Regions from separate parts of the Homo sapiens genome. Here regions 1, 2, 3 and 5 are each linked to region 4. The links come from fine-mapping of genetic effects on gene expression. A gene starts in region 4. Each other region holds a variant in brackets. All regions are shown on one strand. Distances are between the middles of the regions.

Region 1 (4,271 bases), 43 kb after region 4:
AGATGAAGAAGTCAAATCAAAGGATTTTATTTCATTTCTGAGAATAATTTTGTATCTCACTTGCTGTTTCTCAATAATATTGTATAATTTTATTTCTGATTTTTAAAAATAAGCAAACTGCCCTTGACCTCAAAGAGAAAAAAAAAATTTTTAATTTGATATTTGTGTGACCCTTTAGCTCAAAAAGGGATAAAAGACTTATAAAGAAAAGCCGGGCATGGTGGCTCATGCCTGTAATCCCAGTACTTTGGGAGGCCGAGGCAGGAGGATCATGAGGTCAGGAGAGCGAGACCATCCTGGCTAACACGGTGAAACCCCATCTCTACTAAAAATACAAAAAAATTAGCCAGGTGTGGTGGCGGGTGCCTGTAGTCCCAGCTACTCGGGAGGCTGAGGCAGGAGAATGGCGTGAACCTGGGAGGTGGAGCTTACAGTGAGCCAAGATCGCGCCACTGCACTCCAGCCTGGGGACAGAGCGAGACTCCGTCTCAAAAAAAAAAAAATTTATAAAAGAAGATGTGAACCAAAGGATATACTTGGCTTGAATAGTATTAAGTATTTAAGTAAGTCTTTCTAAACATTTTATATCATTTAATGGAATTGTAAATCCCCTGAACAAAAAATATTTGGTGGAGAGGACTTTTATGAAAGTCAAAGCAACATTTCTTTTTACCTATTTCCTAAAGGTTGCTGTTGAAGAAATCTGGTTGCAGAACACCACGGATTGAATTGGAAGAGATGGGACCCTCATTGGATCTGGTTCTGAGGAGGACACACCTGGCATCGGATGACCTTTATAAATTATCTATGAAAATGCCAAAAGCTCTCAAGGTATATAACTTAGAGCTTGGTACCACATTTATTTGTATTTTCTACTTTAATCCTTTTTCTTTCCAAAAAGAATTTGTGGCATATTATATTAAAAGACAAGGACAGGCCAGGCGCGGTGGCTCACGCCTGTAATCCCAGCACTTTGGGAGGCCGAAGTGGGTGGATCACAAGGTCAGGAGATCGAGACCATCCTGGCTAATACAGTGAAACCCCGTCTCTATGAAAAATACAAAAAATTAGCTGGGCGTGGTAGCGGGCGCCTGTAGTCCCAGCTACTTGGGAGGCTGAGGCAGGAGAATGGCGTGAACCGGGGAGGTGGAGCTTGCAGTGAGCAGAGATCACGCCATTGCACTCCAGCGTGGGTGACAGAGTGAGCCAAAAAAAAAAAAAAAAGACAAGGACATATATAAAGAGATCAATACAATAGATTAAACTAGGACTCACAGAGCCAGGAAAAGGAGAGAGAACCAAATAAGCCAACAATAAGGGATAATAAAAAAAGAGTTGCAAAACCCAGACATGAGGTTTGGCTAAGTGCCTTCTGATAGTCAAGACTGTTGTTTTCAGCAAAAGAAAGAGAGTTGTTTGGTACACTGTAAAGGCTAAGGATTTAGAGTACAGGGTATATAAACCATATGTGCATAAAATGTGTTTTGACTTTTTAAGTAGTTTTAAAAGACAAGAAGAAATGTAATCTCTAAAATGCCAATAGAAATTGAAACAATAGTCACAACTTCTTAAGCTAAACACAGGCTATTTTCTTGATGTGTGACAGTGGTTAGTGTAGTTTATAGTTTTGTTTTTCAAAGTGTGGCCTGACAGTTTACCTGGGAATTGTGCAGAATATCAGGCCCTACCCTAGACATACTGAATTAGGATCTGTATTTTAGCAAGATCCCAAGTGATTTGTATGCACACTTAAGTTTGAGAAGAAAAGTGTATAGGGCTATATACTGTGTCACTGAAGGGGCAGGCACTAATGGAAATTGCTACTAAGATAGTTGTTACAGACTAGATTTTTACTGGCTCATTATAGTAGAAGGCCATTAAATATATACATATTCTTTTATCGTAGCCAAAGAAGAAGAAAAATATTTCCCATGATACTTTTGGTACAACTTATGGAAGGATTCATATGCAGAAGCAAGACCTAAGCAAACTACAAACCAGGAAAATGAAGGGGTTGAAGAAGCGACCTGCAGAAAGGATAACAGAAGACCACGAGAAAAAGTCAAAAAGAATTAAAAAAAATTGATGGAACTTAGCCAGCCACTACTGTTTCATTGTGTTCTACTTAAGAGAATTATCAAGC[G/A]TCAATCCATTCAGAGTTTCTTATAAGATCTTATTATATATTTTTATAACATGATAATTTTACGATATATTATTATGAACAGTAATATACTAGTATTAAGTGTAAAGTAAGCCTTTTATTTGAGACATTACACCCTGGTGTGCCATTTTCTCTTGTGATATCCCCTGCCCTCCACAAATTCTTCTTTCTCATTGGGTGGATGGATGGGTGAGGAGGGATCTCCATAACCATTGGGATTTTTTTGAATTTCTGGCCTTAGCTAAAGAAAGCCACAGAAAGCCGGACCCGCAGGAGCTGTGTAAACAATCTCAGTATGAATTACCTGGAAAGTTAACCTCCTCTCCCAACATGGATCTACATTCTGATTTTTATTTTCTACTTTTATTTTGCCTGAAATCCTACTCGTTGACATTTGAGATTTTAAGCTTTGTGGCTGAAAATATATAGATCTCTGAGAGGGATGTCTGCTATCTGATTATTGATAAATTACACTACTGTTGATTGTTTTAAGAGACTCTACTACTAAGTAGAGCCCACCCCGCTTCTCTGAGACGAAACCTGTGTTTTTTGGTTGGTTTGTTTTTAAGAGATGGGGTCTTGTTCTGTCACCTAGGGTGGAGTGCAGTGGCACAATCACAGCTCACTGCAGCCCTGAACTCCTGGGCTCAAGTAATCCTCCTGCCTGAGCCTCTTACGTAGCTGGGATTACAGGCATGAGCCACTGAGCCCTACTTTTTTTTTTTAAAGCAATGAGGTCTTGCTGTGTTGCCCAGGCTGGACTCAAATTCCTGGGCTCAAGTGATCCTCCCACTTCACCTTCCTGAGCAGCCGGAACTACAGATGTTGGTCCACTGCACCTGGCAGAAAAGAAGTTTTGATAGGGGCAGAAATGAAAAAGGAGAAAACAGGTGAGTTTTAAGGTGCAGGGCACTTTAGGGTACTGGGTAGCCCTAGGTAGCTAAAGGTTGCATGAAGGCCCTGGGCGTTTGCAGATGGTGTAGAAGCCAGCCAAAGCCTAACTACTTGTTTTGAAAGTTTCTTGAAGACAGGCCTTGTGCCTAGGAAAACAGAAGCTTTCTTCTTCCTTCTACTAGTATTGCATACTTGTTTTTCTGGAATAGGGTGTTAAGTTCCTTGATTCAGTCCTTGACAAGGAATCTCCTTTATACAAGTGCCAGTAATGTTGTAAAGGTACAGACATACGCAAATCATAATTTGTTACATGAAGTACCAGTGCTTTCTTTTTTGTTGTTTTTTGAGACAGAGTCTCGCTCTGTCGCTCAGGCTGGAGTGCAGTGGCGCGATTTCAGTTCACTGCAACCTCCACCTCCCAGGTTCAAGCATTCTTCTGCCTCAGCCTCCCGAGTAGCTGGGATTACAGGCACCCACCACCACGCCTGGCTGATTTTTTGTAGAGACAGGGTTTCACTTCAATTCCATGTTAGAGAGCTCCGTGCCTGTGTATACATGCCTTTATGTAAGCTTGCTCAGCTACAGATCAACAATGCTGGCACTAAGCAAAAGTTCGAGCCTCAGCTTTACCTTCTACCCTTTCCCTTCTCTTTTGAATCCATTCCTTAGCTTTCCCTAGTCCTCTCCGGATAGCTGTTACTCTCCTCTTGCCAGAAAAATGAAGGAGCTGGTATCATTTATACTTTTTGTTTGATTATACGTTTAACCAAAGACCATACAGTCTCGTACCTGAATCAGACATTTGCACTTTATATCTAAATGAGAAGAAGGGGCTCAGATAAGTCGTTTGCTGCCATCTGGAGGTAGATGGACAATAGCTGAGAAGGGGAGCCATGAAAAGAACATCAGGAGTGATGGACGCATAGTCCTTCCCCAAAGCCTCGCTCATCACTGGTAGGAGGCAAAGCAGTGGGTCCTCCTCACCAGCCGCTTACGGGACCCTGCCATGCCTGGACCCCTCTATCAGGAAGACCTACCCCAGCACTACTGGAAAATCAGCCAATCTTAACCCAAAGATGGCCATGATTTCTGTATGTGAGACGTCTTAAGGGTGTTTTTGTTTGTTTTAATCAGCCCTCTTGTTTGAGATTTGGCAATACATTTCTGTTTTCTAGGTAATTTCTGTGTCTGATGGTAGAGGATCTAATAAGTATTG
Region 2 (4,339 bases), 53 kb after region 4:
GAAGAACAAAGAAAAGGCCAGAGGTTTTATTAAAAAGGAGAAATGTTATGTATTGCTCTTTGAGAAAGTTCGTTGGCACTGTGGGTTTGGGGAGCTGGGAGCTCTGATCGGTGAGCAACAGCAGAGGGCAAAATTAGTCCTAGAATTGTAGCAAGTTATCTCAGAAGCTATAGATAAAACTGGTTTCAGCTTACAACAAGCAGCTTCAGCAGCCAGGCTTGCAAAGAAAGTCTATTCTTGGAGCAATGCTTTGGTACCCTGAATGTTTTTCCTCCTAGCTTCTTGACTCTGTTTTAGTTGGATCTGACAAGAATGACCCAATTCTTATGGTTCAACTTTCACAGGACAATAACCAATCACTCCACATTTATCAAGCATTATTATGTTTCAGGCATTGGGAATAACACCTGACACTGTATATGTTTACAATTTAGAAAGCATTTTCTTTCTTTCCTTTTTGTTTTTCTTTTTCTTTTTTCTTTTTTTTTTTTTTGAGACAAGTCTTGCTCTGTCACCCCAGGCTGGAGTGCAGTGGCACGGATCTTGGCTCACTGCAACCTCCGCCTCCCAGGTTCAAGTGATTCTCCTGCCTCAGCCTTCTGAGTGGCTGGGATTACAGGCGCCCACCACCATGCCTGGCTAATTTTTGTATTTTTAGTAGAGATGGGTTTTTGCTATGTTGGCCAGGCTGGTCTGGAACTCCTGACCTCAGTTGATCTGCCCGACTCGGTCTCACAAAGTGCTGGGATTACAGGGGTGAGCCACCACACCAGGCCAAGCATTTTCTTTCAAATACAAGGAATATTTTTCTGATTTAAAAAAAAAAAACGAACTTTTTTTCTGATAATCAAAGGGAAAGTTGCAAAGATGAAAATAAAAGTCATCTGTAATCTCAGGTAATACCAGGTAATTAACATTTTGCTGTATTTCTTACCACTGAAAAAAATGCATAGTTTTAAGCTGGGTGTGGTGGTGAGCATGTAGTCCCAGTTAAGTGCCCAAAGGGTTCACTTTACCGGCTGCCTAGACAGAGTCGATTTACCAAGACAGGGGAATTGCAATGGACAAAGAGTAATTCACGCAGAGCCGGCTATGTGGGAAACCAGAGTTTTATTATTACCCAAATCAGTCTCCCTGAGCATTTGGGGATCAGAGTTTTCAAAGATAATTTTGCGGGTAGGGGCTTGGGAAGTGGGGAGTGCTGATTGGTCAGGTTGGAGATGGACTCACAGGGGGCGGAAGTGAATTTTTCTTGCTCTCTTCTGTTCCTGGGTGGGATGGCAGAACTGGTTGAGCCAGATTGCCGTCTGGGTGGTGTCAGCTGATCCATCGAGTGCAGGGTCTGCACAATAGCTCTGATCGTAGGTTTCACAATGGTGATATTATCCCCAGGAGCAATTTGGGAAGGTTCAGACTCTTGGAGCCAGAGGCTGCATGACCCCTAAACTGTAATTTCTAGCCTTGTAGCTAATTTGTTAGTCCTGCGAAGGCAGACTGGTCCCCAGGCAAGAAGGGGGTCGTTTCAGGAAAGAGCTATTACCAATTTTGTTTCTAGAGTCAAACCATGAACTGAATTCCTTCCCAAAGTTGGTTCAGCCTATGCCCAGGGATGAACAAGGACAGCTTAAAGGTTAGAAGCAAGATGGAGTTGTTTAGGTCTGATTTCTTTCACTGTCATAATTTCCTCAGTTATAATTTTTGCAAAGGGGATTTCGCCAGCTACTCAGGAGACTGAAGCAGGAGAGTTCCTTAAGCCCAGGTGGCCTTAGTATGCTATAATCATGCCTGTGAATAGCCACTGTACTCCAGCCTGAGTAACATAGCAAGACCTTGTCTCTAAAAAAATAAAAATAGGACCAGGCACGGTGGCTCACAC[G/A]TATAATTTCAGGAGTATTGCTTGTGGCCAGAAGTTCAAGACTAGCCTGGGCAACATATCAAGATCCTGTCTCTACAAACAATTTAAAAACTTAGCCAGGCATAGTGGTGCATGCCTATAGTCCTGGCTACTCTGGAGACTGAGGCAGGAGGATCATTTCAGCCCATGAGTCTGAGACTGCAGTGAGCTGTGGTTTTGCCACTGCACTCCAGCCTCGGTGATTGATAGAGTAAGACACTGTCTCTAAAAAATATTTAAAATATATATCTTTTAAAAAACCCCAAATTTAAAAATAAAACTATGGGGTTGGGCACGGTGCCTCACGCCTATAATCCCAGCGCTTTGGGAGGCCGAGGCGGGCGGATCACTTGAGGTCAGGAGTTTGAGACCAGCCTGGCCAACATGGCAAAACCCCATCTCTACTAAAAATACAAAAATTAGCCAGGAATGGTGACACGCACCTGTAGTCCCAGCTACTCAGGAGGCTGAGCCAGGAGAATAGCCTGAACCCTGGAGGCAAAAGTTGCAGTGAGTCTAGATCATGCCACTGCATTCTATCCTGGGCAACAGAGAATGAGACTCTGTCACAATCAGTCAATAAATCAATCAACAAAATACATAAAATAAAACTGTGGTCTTATTTTGAGTTCTGCTTTTTTATTTTTAAATACATATATAGCTAAAACCTACATGTATGGAAGTGTTCATAAGAGCAAAACATGACGAATTTTTACCAAGTGAACACACTTGCATAATTATCCAGATCAAGAAATAGAAATAATATCCTAAGTGAATTAACGTAAAGGAACAGAAAACCAAATACCACACTTGTAAGTAGGAGCTAAACAATTGGTACTCATGGACATAAAGATGGCAACAGTAGATACTGGGGACCGACTACTAGCGGGGAGGGAGAAAGGAGGCCAAGGGTTCAGAAACTATTGGGTACTGTGCTCAATACCTAGGTAATGGGATCACTCATACCCCAAACTTCAGCATCATGCAACATACCCAGGTAACAAAACTGTACATGTACCCCCTTTATCTAAGTGGGAAAAGAAAAAGAAATAGAAATATTGTAAAGACCGACAGAAGTCCCCTTGTACCTGCTCCCATCATTGGCCCTTGCCCAAGGGTTTACTAGGTGCTCTGCCCTTTATTTTTTTTAAGACAGATTCTCACTCTCCCTGGCTGGAGTACAGTGGCATGATCACAGCACACTGCAGCCTCAACCTCCCAGGCTTAGGTGATCCTCCCACCTCAGCATTCCTAGTAGCTCGGACTGCAGGCATGTGCCACCGCCCAGCTAATTTTTTACAACAGAGGTCTTGCCATGTTGCCCAGGCTGATCTTGAACTCCTGGGCTCAAGCAATCCTCCCGCCTCAGCTTCCCAAAGTGCTGGGATTACAGGTGTGAGCCATTGTGCCTGGCCTGCCCTGCTCTTTGAAATCAATGTTATATGTAAGCAGTTTCTTGTGTCATTAGTTATTTTTTAAACACTATTTTTGATGGCTCTGTAATATTTGATTACGTGGATATGTTATTTATTTTAGTCATTCTATTGTTGGGCATTAATGGCATTTCCTGTTGATATTATTATAAATAATATGATAAGCACAATCTTTTTTTCTTTTTTCTTTTTTTTTTTTTGAGATGGAGTCTTGCTGTGTCACCCAGGCTAGAGTGCAGTGGCATGATCTCGGCTCACTGCAACCTCCGCCTCCCAGGTTCAAGCAATTCTCCTGCCTCAGCCTCCCAAGTAGCTGGGATTACAGGCGCCCGCCACCACACTGGGGTAATTTTTGTATTTTTAGTAGAGGCAGGGTTTCGCCATGTTGGCCAGGCTGATCTCGAACTCCTGACCTCATGATCCGCCCACCTTGGCCTCCCTAAGTGCTGGGATTATAGGCGTGAGCCACCATACCCGGCTGATAAGCGCAGTCTTTTTTTGAAAGTGCTTTCACATGGTATTTTCAGTTGATATTTAAAATATTCCATAAACTGAATAGTGCAGGTGGTATTTTATACAATTTCCAGTCGAGAAAGCAGAGGCTTGGATTAAGTAAACTTGTCCAACGTTACACAACTTAAAGAGGTAAATCTGGGCCTAGAACTCAAGTCTTCTAATTCCTAATCTAGTGGATTCTCAGCAAGATGTCTTAAGTGTCTCACAGTATTCATGTGAATCACATGGAGAAATGATGTAACTAATCAGCACCCAGGCCAATTCATAGCAATTTAAACAACTACACCCAAAGGATATTGATGAATGATGAATACATCCATGGCATCCAGAAAGCAGATCTTTACTGACAAGCCTCAGGGCTGCTATTGACCTTTGTCTCTTTAAACGGTGTTCTTCCACTTTCATGAAGACAAAAAAAAGACACAAAGAAAAGTTCAGAACCTGGGGGAGAAATATACACATAGTTAGGATAAAGGAGACTGTTCTACAGTTGGGA
Region 3 (4,339 bases), 38 kb after region 4:
TCGGCTCGGCATCAGGGGGAGACCGGGGAGGGGGAGGGGGAGGGAGAGGGAGAGGGAGAGGGAGAGGGCAATTGTGGTTCTTGAGATAAGTGTGTGACTTCTCTTTTTTAAGGCGTTGGTACTGGCTGACAGAGCCCACAGTTTCCTAAAGAATACACTGACTCCCACAAATTGCCTTTCTCTGTACATTGAGTTTAGACTTTGCTGTACATTTTGAGCTATGGTGTGGCTGGTGTTGCAGCCTGAGAGCTGACAGCTTGGTGTTGACAGTGTCTTCTGTACAGTAGTGTTGTTTGTCCAACCATTTGTATCTAGCATTTTGTACATCGTTTTTATTTTGTTTTCTTCACAATGAAAATACATGACTGACCAGCTTTATGTCCTATGAATGTCCAAATGAAACTTAAATATTCACCTCTTAGCTGATAATTTCCATCTTGGGCTCAACTGTATTAAATCAGAGACATTTAGTTCTTTTTCTCCATATAATTAATACCACCGCTTCTGTTTTTCTGTTTTCCTCTCACTAAAAATAAATGAGGCAAAATGCAGTAAAATACCCAATGATCATAAGATGTAATTAGAGACTTTATAGTAATTTTTAGCTGGTTAAGATCGAAAGCCCCTTAAGTCTCCTGTTTGAGTTTCCATATGTGATTTGGGAGCTTCTAAGTATGTATTATACTATACAGTAGATGACTGTTATTTAGAGAACAAGAAATAAAAGATGAAAAATCACTAATATAAAAAAGTACTCAGGACGGACATGGTGGCTCATGCCTGTAATCCCAGAACTTTGGGAGGCCGAGGTGGGTGGATTGCTCGAGGCCAGGAGTTCAAGACCAGCCTGGCCAACACAGCGAAACCTGTCTCTACTAAAAATACAAAAATTAGCTGGACATGGTGGCACTGGCCTCCATGCTACTTAGGAGGCTGAGGCAGGACAATTGAGCCCAGGACGCAGAGGTTACAGAGAGTGGGCGGATCACTTGAGGAGTTCAAGACCAGCCTGGCCAACATGGAGAAACCCTGTCTCTATTAAAAAATACAAAAATTAGCTGGGTATGGTGGCGCACGCCTGTAATCCCAGCTACTTGGGAGGCTGTGGCATGAGAATTGCTTGAGCCTGGGCCACACGCCTATAATCCCGGCTACTCAGGCGGCTATGGCACAAGAATTGCTTCAGCTTGGGAGGCAGAGGTTGCAATGAGCTGAGATTGTGCCACTGCACTCCAGCCTAGGTGGCAGAGTGAGACTGTCTGAAAAAAACAAAACAAAATTAAACTTATGTTGGCTGGACACCTGTAATCCTAGCACATGGGAGGCTGAGGCGGGTGGATCACCTGAGGTCAGTAGTTCCAGACCAGCCTGGCCAACATGGCATAACACCGTCGCTACTAAAAATACAAAAATTGGTCAGGCATGGTGGTAGGCGCCTGTAATCCTAGCTACTCGGGAGGCTGAGGCTGGAGAATTGCTTGAACCCGGGAGACAGAGGTTGCAGTGAGCCGAGCACTCCAGCCTGGGCAACAAGAGTGAAACTCCATCTCAGACATAAAGTAATAAAATAAAATAAAAATTGTATAAAATTACCTTCAGGCTATGTATATAAACTGTATATGAAACATAAATGGATTTTGTGTTTAGACTTGGATCTCATCCCCAAGATATCTCATTATACGTATGCAAGTATTTCAAACTCTGAAAAAAACCAGAAATCTGGAACACCTTTCTTTTCTTTCTTTTGTTTTTTTTTTGAGACGGAGTCTCGCTATGTTGCCCAGGCTGGAGTGCAGTGACGCAATCTCAGCTCACTTCAGCCTCTGCCTCCCGGGTTCATGCCATTCTCCTGCCTCAGCCTCCCAAGTAGCTGGAACTACTGGCACCCGCCACCACGCCCGGCTAATTTTATTTTTGTATTTTTAGTAGAGACAGGGTTTCACCATGTTAGTCAGGATGGTCTCAATCTCCTGACCTCGTGATCTACCTGCCTTGGCCTCTCAAAGTGCTGAGATTACAGGCATGAGCCACCGCGCCTGACCTGGAACACTTCTTTTTTTGAGGCAGGATCTTGCTGTTGCC[C/T]AGGCTGGAGTACAGTGGCATCATCTCAGCTCACTGCAACCTCTGCCTCCCGCATTCAAGCGATTCTCCTGCCTCGGGTGGGTATGTATGCCCTCTGTGTTAAACATAGAGGGGATACAAGGGAGATAAAAATATAACGGTAAAAAATCATTGACAGTAAGAAATGAGTGGTAACAGTAGCCTAAAACTCTTCTGTGTTGAACGGTTTCGCAGAAAGTATTCACTTGTATTTAGTGAAAAGGGTTTATTTGTAAAGAAAGATACAGAGAAAATAAAACAAAATAGAGAATTATCAAGTCAGACTTTAGAGCAAGAATAAACTGGCCCAGCGTGGTGGCTCATGCCTGTAATCCAGTACTTTGGGAGGCCAAGATGGGTGGATCACCTGAGGTCAGGAGTTTGAGACCAGCCTGGCCAACATGGTGAAACCCCGTCTCTACTAAAAATATAAAAATTAGCCGGGCAACATGGTGTGCACCTGTAATCCCAGCTACTCAGGAGGCTGATGCAGGAGAACCCGGGAGGCAGAGGTTGCAGTGAGCCAAGATCGCACCACTGCACTCCAGCCTGGGTGACAGCGAGACTCCATTTCAAAAAAAGAGAAAAAAAAGAATAAACTAGCAGTAAGGCCGGGCACGGTGGCTCATCCCTGTAATCCCAGCAGCCCTTTGGGAGACTGAGGTGGGCAGATCACGAGGTCAGGAGATCGAGACCATCCTGGCTAACACGGTGAAACATCATCTATACTAAAAATACAAAAAATTAGCTGGACATGGTGGCGCATGCCTGTAATCCCAGCTATTCAGGGGGCCAAGGCAGGAGAATTGCTTGAACCACGGAGTCGGAGATTGCAGCGAGCCTAGATTGTGCCACAGCACTCCGGCCTGGTGACAGAGCAAGACTCTGTCTCAAAAAAATAAAAATAAAAACAAAAATAAAAAACTAGCAGTGTAACTATAATACATAGATCCACCAAAAATCTGATTGCTAGAATCACCTTTACACTAGCACGACATCTTTCATAATGAAAAAAAGTTTGAAATTTTAAAATCAGAGACCCTAGTATGTAATTTTGATCACTAGATGTTCCATATGTGCCTTGTAATACTTGTTAGCTATTAATTTGAAATAAAAAATGGACACTGTGATTGAGAGTGAGCTGCTACTTGAAAGAATCACTAAACATGTGGATCAGCTTAGCTTCCAGAGGCTGTGCCACACTTGGGGAGCATTGAGGATGGGAGGAAGGGGTGGTCCAGGGATTCAGCATCACCTCTGAGCCTACTGACCTGGCTCTGAGCTGGGCTCAGCCACGTGACATGGGCAGGTCACCACTTCTCAGGGTCTTTGTTTCTTCCTCTGTAAACTATAGCAATACCATTTAGATAATTCTGAGGTCCCCCTAAGATTGACAGTACTGCTTTATAAGAGTAAAGGGGTACTCATAGATGGGCATATACCAGAAAGTATGTCTGACTTAACTTGGCTCCCCAGGCATTCTTTGGGCTAGCTATACTGTGGAACCCTTTCCCTCGCTCTTACTGCAAATTAGCCCTTATGCAATTTGAAAATGGTAATATTTAATATTCACACACTTTATTTGTGAAGATAAATGAGGTTTATAAAATGGTTTTGAGCTTTTTGGATGAAAGGAACTCTAAACAGGAAATTATATTAATATAACCTTTAACATGATCTTTTGGGTGAATAAATCATAGTGTTATTGACCACTGTTCCTATACATCCTATAGTAATTATTCCTTGTATGTGAGTGACTATTTATATCCGTTGGGAAATTTTATTCACTATGGAGTCAGAGCCATTAATATGAAACAAAATCGTTAGTAATGCCACATGTGCCTTTGCACAATGGTTAGGCCTTATGGGGGGAAATATGCAAAACAAAGTGGTAGCATACTTTGAAAAGCAAACATAACATTCTAATTGAGGAGTTTACTTAATGAAAACAGACTTTCAGCCAGAGAAGTGTATGAGAGGGAGAAAAATGAGGAAATTACAATTTGAACAGTAGTGGTAATGTCACTCTTCCTCAAGAAATAGACAAATAATATTTAAAAATATGTAGAAATTACCAGTTAGCATATCTACCAGCTTGAGCCCATCTGAGAGAGAAAGAACTGGGTTCTGTTTGCAGATAACTAAAAGCTAGAGAATATTTCCTTAAATCAGTTTGATCTTCCAGTAAACATACTCACTGAAATGATTAAGATCAGATCATCTACACAGAAAAGTATGA
Region 4 (4,339 bases):
ACAAAAATTTGTACACTAATATTCAAAGCAGCTGGGTGTGGTGGCACGCGCTTGTGGTCCCAGCTACTCGAGAGGCTGAAGCACTAGAATCACTTGAACCCAGGAGATGGAGGTTGCAGTAACCTGAGATTGCATCACTGCACTCCAGCCTGTGTGACAGAGTGAGACTCTGTCTCAGAAACAAAACAAAGCAAAGCAAAACAAAACAAAAAAACACAAAGCAGCATAATCCATAATAGCCAAAAAATAGGAACCATTCAAATGTACATAAGCTGCCGGGTACAGTAGCTCACGCCTGTATTCCTAGCACTTTGAGAGGCCAAGGCGGGTGGATTACCTGAGCTCAGAAGTTCAAGACCAGCCTGGCCAACATGGTGAAACCCTGTCTCTACTAAAAAATACAAAAGTTAGCAAGGTGTGGTGGTGCGTGCATGTAATCCCAGCTACTTGGGAGGCTGAGGCAGAACTGCTTGAACCCGGGAGGTGGACGGCGCAGTAAGCCAAGATCGCACCACTGCACTTCAGCCCTGGCGACAGAGCAAGACTATGTCTAAAATAAAAAAAGTACCTAGGTTGATAAATGGATAAACAAAATGTGGTATATCCATACAAAGGAATATTATTCAGTCCTAACAAAATGGAAGTACTGATCCACGCTACATGTATGAACCTCAAAAAGATAGTGAAAGAAGTCAAACACAAAAGGCCATACGTTGCACGAAACCATTTATATATGTTCAGAATAGGCAAATCCATTGAACATAAAGTAGATTATTGGTTGCCAAGGGCTGGCAGGAGGGGGAAGTGGGGCATGGACTGCTACTGGGTGTGTGTGTCAGGGGGGTTCTTTTTGAGGTGATTAAATATTCTGGAATTAGTGGTGATATTTGCACATCTTTGTGAATACACCAAAAATCACTGAATTGTACACTGTAAAGGGGTACATTTTATGGTATGTGAAGTATATGGTAACTTAAAAACTGGGGAAAAATCACGAACAGCAGTACATTTTCTGCGCATCTTTTATGTACTAGGCAACTGTGGTAGTCATAAATTCTGTCACACAGATCGCATAGTTGTCAATAGTGCCCCTTTCACATCAATGTTTTTAGTGCTTATGTGAGTACCTACCGTGCAATCAATCAACCTTTCTAGCATCCTGGGATTCCTTGAAGAATAAAATCTGGTTTCTGAATACCTGACTCCAGGTATGCACACTAGCGCGTACATCAAACTGCGAGGGTCTATGTTATTTTATTTTATTTTTATTTTATTTTTGAGACGAAGTCTCGCTCTGTCACCCAGGCTGGAGTGCAGTGGCGCGATCTCCGCTCACTGCAACCTCCGCCTCCCGGGTTCAAGCAGTTCTCCCTGCCTCAGCCTCCCGAGTAGCTGGGGTTAGAGGCGCCCGCCACCACGCCCGGCTAATTTTTGTATTTTTAGTAGAGACGGGGTTTCGCCATGTTGGCCAGGCTGGTCTCGAACTCCTGTTATCAGGTAATCCGCCCGCCTGGGCCTCCCAAAATCCTGGGATTACAGGCGTGAGCCACCACGCCCGGCCAGTGTTACTTAAAAGTATTACCTCGCACCTGTAACTCCAGGAAAGAGCCGGGGCAAAAATCCGTAACCAAGACAACAGGGCGCGATTCCAATCAAGATGGCCGCCAGCGCCTCTAGACGCCCTCTACGAGGCCGTCCCCGGAAGTGGCGTTACGCGCAGCTTCCGGTTCCGCCTGTTCCGGCGCACGTAATCGCCGAGGGCACGTGCATGCCCCCTGGTTAAGAGTTGCAGGTAGCGGTAGCGATGGACACTCTGGATCGAGTAGTGTAAGTGCGCTGGGTCTCAGCCCCGGGGAGCGTTGGGGTGAAAGGGTCCCGTGATGAGGGTGGTACTGTCTCGGCCTCTCACTCTTCCTGGTTACCCCTCTAATTACCTGGGTGGGGGCCGATCGATCACCAGCCCGGGTCCTCCTCAGCGCGAGCTGCTTGCCAGGAGACAGTGGGGAAGCTCTCAAGTGGGAGCCGTGGGATGGGAGGGATGTGGGATTGAAGCGTTGGCCGCTTTTATCCTAGCCAGTTGAAAAACGTCTGACTTCCGAAGTATGAGACAGATGGTATAGTGGGGTTAGGAGCACAGCCCTCGGAATCCGACAGATCTGAGTGACAGTCTGGCGCGTCCACTTAAAGCTTTGTGACTTTGGGTCATTAAATATCTCTAAATCTTAGCTTATTCTGTAAAATAGCGCTCACCATAGTCATACTTCATAGAGCTGTGAGGGTTAGTTTCGAGAATGTATGTAGAGCCTTTGCTGCAGCACGTAGAAATGTTCATTAGTTTTTTCTTTTCCTTCCAACTTTGTACACTCCTCTGAGTTATCCTTGAATGATACCTGTTTTAAATTTGTTCAAGAATATTTGGGCTAAACAGCCCTGCTGTTACTTGCTGTGATTTTCTTGCTATTTACCTAAGTTAACATGTATCCAAAACGACAGTTTTAGTCATTCAGAGATTTTGCACACCTGCTATGCCTCTAGCTGTTTGGACTACAAAGAGTAGTTTACTAGGTATTGGGACTAGTTCACACGTTAATTGGGAGCAGGCAGCTAATAAAACATGTTAATTGCTATTTGCATTTGTTGCTGTTTAATGAGATACAAAAGATAGAATAATTTGTATCTTTATCAACCAGTAAATGATCAGAAGCTTTATATGTGACATTATATCTGGAGGAGTATTTTAAAAATCTACATGGGAAACTTAAGTGTATGTATGGTCTCTTTTTCTTCCCAAAGTGTCCATGGGACTGGACGAGGGAGGGTCATAATTATTTGGGAGGAAGAATTCTTTCAGTAGATGGCAGAGAACTGTCTGAAAAGCAAGGTGCTCATTGTAGAGGAAGCAGAGGTGAAGCCCCTCTTTTGAACAGAAGTGTGTAAAAACATGCCACTCCTACTGTCACATCATAAAGTCAGAATAATGAATTTATTTTCCCTTCATATTTTACAGGGTAATTGGTCTAGACGAATTTTTAAATCTAGCTTTAAAAAATTTGTTTTTTTTTGAGACAGGGTATCACTCTGTCACCCAGGCTGGAGTGCAGTAGCCCCATCACAGCTCACTGCAGCCTCGACCTCCCTGGGATCAAGCAGTCCTCCTACCTCAGCCTGCTGAGTAGCTGGGACTATAGGCGCACACCACCACAGCTAATTTTTGTATTTTTTGTAGAGACAGGGTTTTGCATTGTTGCCCAGGCTGGTCTCGAACTTCTGGGCTCAGTGATCCATCCACCTTGGCCTCCTAGAGTGTTTTTATTACAGGCTGTGGGCCACCTCCCAGCCCTAGCTCATTTTAAAAATTGGCCTGTTTACTTGCTGTGTGATCTTGGGCACATTACCTGTCTGTTCAATTGCCTCATCTGTAAAGTGAAGATAAGAATTGTAACTCGCGCGTGGAGGCTCACGCCTGTAATCCCAGCACTTTGGGAGGCTGAGGCGGGGGGGTGGGTCACGAGGTCAGGAGATCGAGACCATCCTGGCTAACACGGTGAAACCTCGTCTGTACTAAAAATACAAAAAATTAGCCGGGCGTCGTGGCGGGCGCCTGTAGTCCCAGCTACTCGGGAGGCTGAGGCAGGAGAATGGCGTGAACCTGGGAGACGGAGCTTGCAGTGAGCCGAGATCGCACCACTGCACTCCAGCCTGGGCGACAGAGCGAGACTCTGTCTCAAAAAAATAAATAAATAAATAAATAAGAATTGTAACTCTCAGGATTGTGGTGAAGATTAAGCCTTAATAGAGTGACTCCATGTAAACATCAGCCTTATTATTCCCCATTGTTGGCAATAATACTGGCATTCTCAGCAATGATGTTGGAGTGCAACAGTGTATACTTCCTGGCAGGCATTGTGGTCTTAAACCTAAAAGAAAAATAAGCAGTCGTTAGTCTTATGTTTAGTAAATGTCCACAGGTTGATCAGCAGTTGATGCTCAATTCTTTGTATTAGGGTACAGGATACAGTTTGACTACTTAAAGTTTGAAGAAAAAAGAAGAGTAAGAAAGAGTAAGAGAAAAAAAACAGCAACAGTATTTACTTGAGCCTTTTATTTTTTACTTAAAAAAAAGATTGGAAAGAGCAGTAATAAAAGAATGGTGGGAATACAAAAATGAAAGCTTTTTTTTAAAAGCTATCAAAACACTTATTTAACAATAATAAGGAAATATCTTTTACTAATATCTACCAAAAAAGTGAGATTTTGGCCGGCCCTTGTGGCTCGCACCTGTAATCCCAGCACTTTGGGAGCCGAGGTGAGCGGATCACCTGAGGTCAGTAGTTCGAGA
Region 5 (4,339 bases), 140 kb before region 4:
AAGAGAGTGTTCATGAGTCTCTCACATTTCTGCCCATCTGGTGAGCAGCAGTACTAACTGCCTTTGTTCCACACTATGTTTTTACCAAGTTGTATAGCAAGCAGGCTTGGAAGATAAAGATGGTATATCCCTCCAGACCAGGGGGCAGATATGCTTACAGCATTGGAAGACAGGGATAATGACTATCTATGCTGGGGAGAAAAAGGCAGCAGGCTTAATGTCCATTATAAAACATTCTTGTTCTCTAAATTTGGGGATCCTTTCCTATAACACAACCCTCTGCATATACAGATGTCACCTGCCCCACTTTGTGTTTGGGACTTGGAGAACCAACACAAATGCTGACACTCTGACTACTGCTATTGCTTTGAGTAATAAACTGTCATTTGTCTCTGACCAAAGAGTAGCTTAGCAGTAATAGTAGTAGTAGTCGTTTTCTGCCAACATTCAAGCAACTGTGGCAGGCTAACCATGGCAGAGTAGAATCTCAGACCCTTCATAGTTTTTAATGTCTATGTGGTCCCAAACACTTTATGATGAAAATTAAGTTGGTCTTAGGTTGGTAGTGCCCTAGACAGCTAGTATAAGGAAAAGAAAATCCTCTCTGGAAGAACACCCTTCAACCTAGACCTCAAACAATTCCCACAGATATTGAACCAAAACTTTTAGTCAAAAGTCAAAAAACCACCAGGTGTGGTGGTTCACACCTGTAATCCCAGCAATTTGGGAGGCCGAGGGGGATGGATCACAAGGTCAGGAGTTCGAGACCAGCCTGGACAATATCATGAAACCCCGTCTCTACTAAAAATACAAAAATTAGCCGGGCATGGTGGTGGGCACCTGTAGTCCCAGCTACTCGGGAGGCTGAGGCAGGAGAATTGCTTGTACCTGGGAGGTAGAGGTTGCAGTGAGCCGAGATCGGGCCACTGCACTCCAGCCTGGGCGACAAAGCGAGACTCCCTCTCAAAAAAAAGTCTAAAAAACATATGCTTTTAGTCAAAAGTCAAAAAATGGCTGGGGTATGGTGGTTCACGCCTGAAATCGCAGCACTTTGGAAGGCCTGGGCGGGCGGATCCCCTGAGGTCAGAAGTTGGAGACTAGCCTGGCCAACATGGAGAAACCCACCTCTACTAAAAATACAAAAAAATTAGCTGGGCGCAGTGGTGCAGGCCTATAATCCCAGCTACACGGGAGGCTGAGGCAGGAGAATCGCTAGAACCGAGGAGGCAGAGGTTGTAGTGAGCTGAGATGGCCCCACTGCACTCCAGCCTGGGCGATAAGAGTGAAACTCCATCTTGAAAAAAAAAAAAAAGTCAAAAAACACACAAGAAAATAAAGTACTATGAGTTGGAAGCAGCCTCAAAAACTTCAGATGCTAGAATTTTAGATACAGAATATAAAATAAATATGTTTAATATATTTATTTATTCATTTATTTTGAGACAGGGTCTCACTATTACCCAGGCTGGAGTGCAGTGGCGCCATCTTGGCTCACTGTAGCCTCCACCTACTGGGCTCAGGTGGATCCTTCCACCTCAGCTTCCTGAGTAGCAGACTACAGGCGTGCACCACCACACCTGGCTAATTTTTGTAGTTTTTTTTGTACCGGTGGGGTCTTGCCATGTTGCCATGCTGGTCTCAAACTCATGAGCTCAAGCGATCTGCCTGCCTAGGCCTCCCAAAGTGTTGCGATTACAGGTGTGAGCCACGGAGCTCGGCCCCTTTTCCACTTTTAAGGACCTTTGGGATTATATTGGGCCTCCCCAGATAATCTAGGATAATCTCCCTAAAATCAGCTGATTAGCATTCTTAGTTCCATCTGCAATCTAAATCCTCCTTAGCTATGTAACCTAACATTTACAGATTCTGAAGATTAGGACATTGATATGTTTAAGGATTCATTATCCTGCCTCCTATAAGCAGTAATCCACCTATACAAGAATCCCAGGTGCAGTGGCTCACGCCTGTAATCCCAGCACTTTAGGAGGCCAAGTTGGATCACTTGAGCCCAGGAGGTTGAGACCAGTGTAGCCAACATAGCAAGATCCTGTCCCTACTTCAAAAAAAAAGAAAGAAAGAAAGAAAGAGAATTATAATCTTTTTTTTTTTTTGACTGAGTAGCTGGGATTACAGGCATGTGCCACAATGCCTGGCTAGTTTTTGTATTTTTAGTAGAGACGGGGTTTTGTCATGTTGGTCTCGCTGGTCTCAAACTCCTGACCTCAGGTGATCCTCCCGCCTTGGCCTCCTAAAGTGCTGGGATTATAGGCATGAGCCGCCTTGCCTGGCCAAGTTTAGTATTTTTATGATATCTAGATGAAGGCTTCTTCTGGGCTGGGTGTGGTGGCTCACGCCTGTAATCCCAGCACTTTGGGAGGCTGAGGTGGGCGGATCACGAGGTCAGGAGATCGAGACCATCGTGGCTAACACGGTGAAACCCCATCTCTACTAAAAACACAAAAAATTAGCCGGG[T/C]GTGGTGGCAGGCGCCTGTAATCCCACCTACTCAGGAGGCTGAGGCAGGAGAATGGCTTGAACCCGGGAGGCAGAGGTTGCAGTAGGCCAAGATCACACCATTGCACTCCACCCTGGGCAACAAGAGCAAAACTGCATTTCAGAAAAAAAAAAGAAAGAAAGAAAGAAAGAAAAAAGAAATACCTGAGGCTGGGTAATTTATAAAGAAAAGATGTTTCATTGTCTCAAGGTTCTGCAGACAGTACAAGAAATGTGGTGCCTGCATCTGCTTCTGGTGAGCCTCACGAAGCTTCTAATCATCACAGAAGGTGAAATGGGAAGCCAGCAAATCACATGGAGAGAGAGAGAGAGAAAGCAAGCGCAAGCACGAGACAGTGAGGAGGGAGGTGCCACAGACCTTTTTTTTTTTTTTTTTTTGATATGGTGTCTCACTCTGTCGCCCAGGCTGGAGTGCAATGGCATGATCTCAGCTCACTGCAACTTCTGCCTCCCAGGTTCAAGAGATCTCCTGCCTCAGCCTCCCAAGTAGCTGAGATTACAGGCGTGAGCCACCACGCCCGGCTAATTTTTGTATTTTTAGTAGAGACGGGGTTTCACCATGTTGGCCAGGCTGGTCTCCAACTCCTGACCTCAACCGACCCACCTGTCTTGGCTTCTCAAAGTGTTGGGATTACAGACATGAGCCACCACACCTGGCCCGGTGCCACAGACGTTTAAACAACCAGAACTTGCCTATCACTAAGGGAATGGTGCTAGACCATTCATGAGAGATCTGCTCCCATGACTCAATTACATAGTAAGCAGACTATCAAAAAGGGAATTTGGAGATTGAGTTGCTTACCTAACATAGCATAAACATGGTGAAATGAGTATATTAGCAATTCATGCAGGGCTGGCTTCATGGGCATACAGGCCAGGCCTTAGTCTCAAAAGGGACTCATACTGAGTTTAATACCCTGCTGTTGGGTCATTAAACTCCTAATAATTTTCTCTATTTAAGCTCTTGGACTTATACCAGCGATTTGCCAGGGGTTCTCAGGCCTTAGGCCAGAGACAGAAGGCTGCACTGTCGGCTTCCATACTTTTCAGGTTTTGGGACTCGGATGGGCTTCTTTGCTCCTCAGCTTGCAGACAGCCTACTGTGGGACTTCGCCTTGTGATCGTGTGAGTCAATACTCCTTAATAAACTCCTATTCATATATACATTTATCCTATTAGTTCTGTCCCTATAGAGAACCTTGACTAATACACCAGTTTTGAAACCTGCTGCAACATTTCAAAGAAAATATTCACAGGCATACAAATAAAAACAGATTTTAGGCCGGGCGTGATGGCTCACGCCTGTAATCCCAGCACTTTGGGAGGCCAAGGAGGGTGGATCACAAGGTCAGATGTTCGAGACCAGCCTGGCCAACATGGTGAAACCCCGTCTCTACTAAAAATACAAAAATTAGCCGGTGTGGTGGTGCACGCATGTAATCCCAGCTACTTGGGAGGCTGAGGTAGGAGAATCACTTGAACCTAGGAGGCAGAGGTTTCAGTGAGCTGAGATCGCGCCACTGCACTCCAGCCTGGGTGACAGTGTGACTGTCTCAAACAACAACAACAACAACAAAAACTGAATTTAAAGATTGTCACATTTAACAGAAAAGAACACTTTTCATGTGGAACTCAGGTGAAAAAAACATTAATGAGGAAGACAAATCTAAAATTAATTTTTTCCTTTTAATTGAATATACAGTAGAATGCATAAATAGCTATCCTGAATTATATACATGAAGCCACTTTTAATTTCTTATATGACTGACATCTACAAGTTACAGAAACTATCAGAGGAAACATTAAATGCCATTGTATAAATTAACA

What was found. PIP is the estimated chance that this variant, and not a neighbour inherited with it, causes the effect.
Region 1: its variant is the best candidate, but not a certain one, in a credible set for the expression of RPF2 in T cells (TOPMed, PIP 0.74).
Region 2: its variant is the best candidate, but not a certain one, in a credible set for the expression of RPF2 in whole blood (TOPMed, PIP 0.65).
Region 3: its variant is the best candidate, but not a certain one, in a credible set for the expression of RPF2 in monocytes (BLUEPRINT, PIP 0.68).
Region 5: its variant is the best candidate, but not a certain one, in a credible set for the expression of RPF2 in whole blood (INTERVAL, PIP 0.53).

Annotation. Positions count from the first base shown.
Region 1 is chr6:111,023,497-111,027,767 of GRCh38, forward strand. It overlaps RPF2 (ribosome production factor 2 homolog), which reads left to right. Exons shown (of 10, transcript NM_032194.3): 9 at 687-831; 10 at 1,907-4,271. The coding sequence ends at 2,086. Among named protein-coding and RNA genes, the nearest start is that of RPF2, 44 kb to the left of the region's middle. The variant G/A (reference allele first, on the strand shown) is at 2,144.
Region 2 is chr6:111,032,811-111,037,149 of GRCh38, forward strand. No RefSeq gene overlaps it. Among named protein-coding and RNA genes, the nearest start is that of SLC16A10, 53 kb to the right of the region's middle. The variant G/A (reference allele first, on the strand shown) is at 1,877.
Region 3 is chr6:111,018,176-111,022,514 of GRCh38, forward strand. The region is part of intron 8 of RPF2 (ribosome production factor 2 homolog); the gene reads left to right. Among named protein-coding and RNA genes, the nearest start is that of RPF2, 38 kb to the left of the region's middle. The variant C/T (reference allele first, on the strand shown) is at 2,083.
Region 4 is chr6:110,980,303-110,984,641 of GRCh38, forward strand. RPF2 (ribosome production factor 2 homolog) reads left to right here and starts at 1,736. Exons shown (of 10, transcript NM_032194.3): 1 at 1,736-1,827. The coding sequence starts at 1,805.
Region 5 is chr6:110,842,168-110,846,506 of GRCh38, forward strand. It overlaps a transcript of AMD1 not described here. Among named protein-coding and RNA genes, the nearest start is that of SNORA40C, 4.2 kb to the right of the region's middle. The variant T/C (reference allele first, on the strand shown) is at 2,474.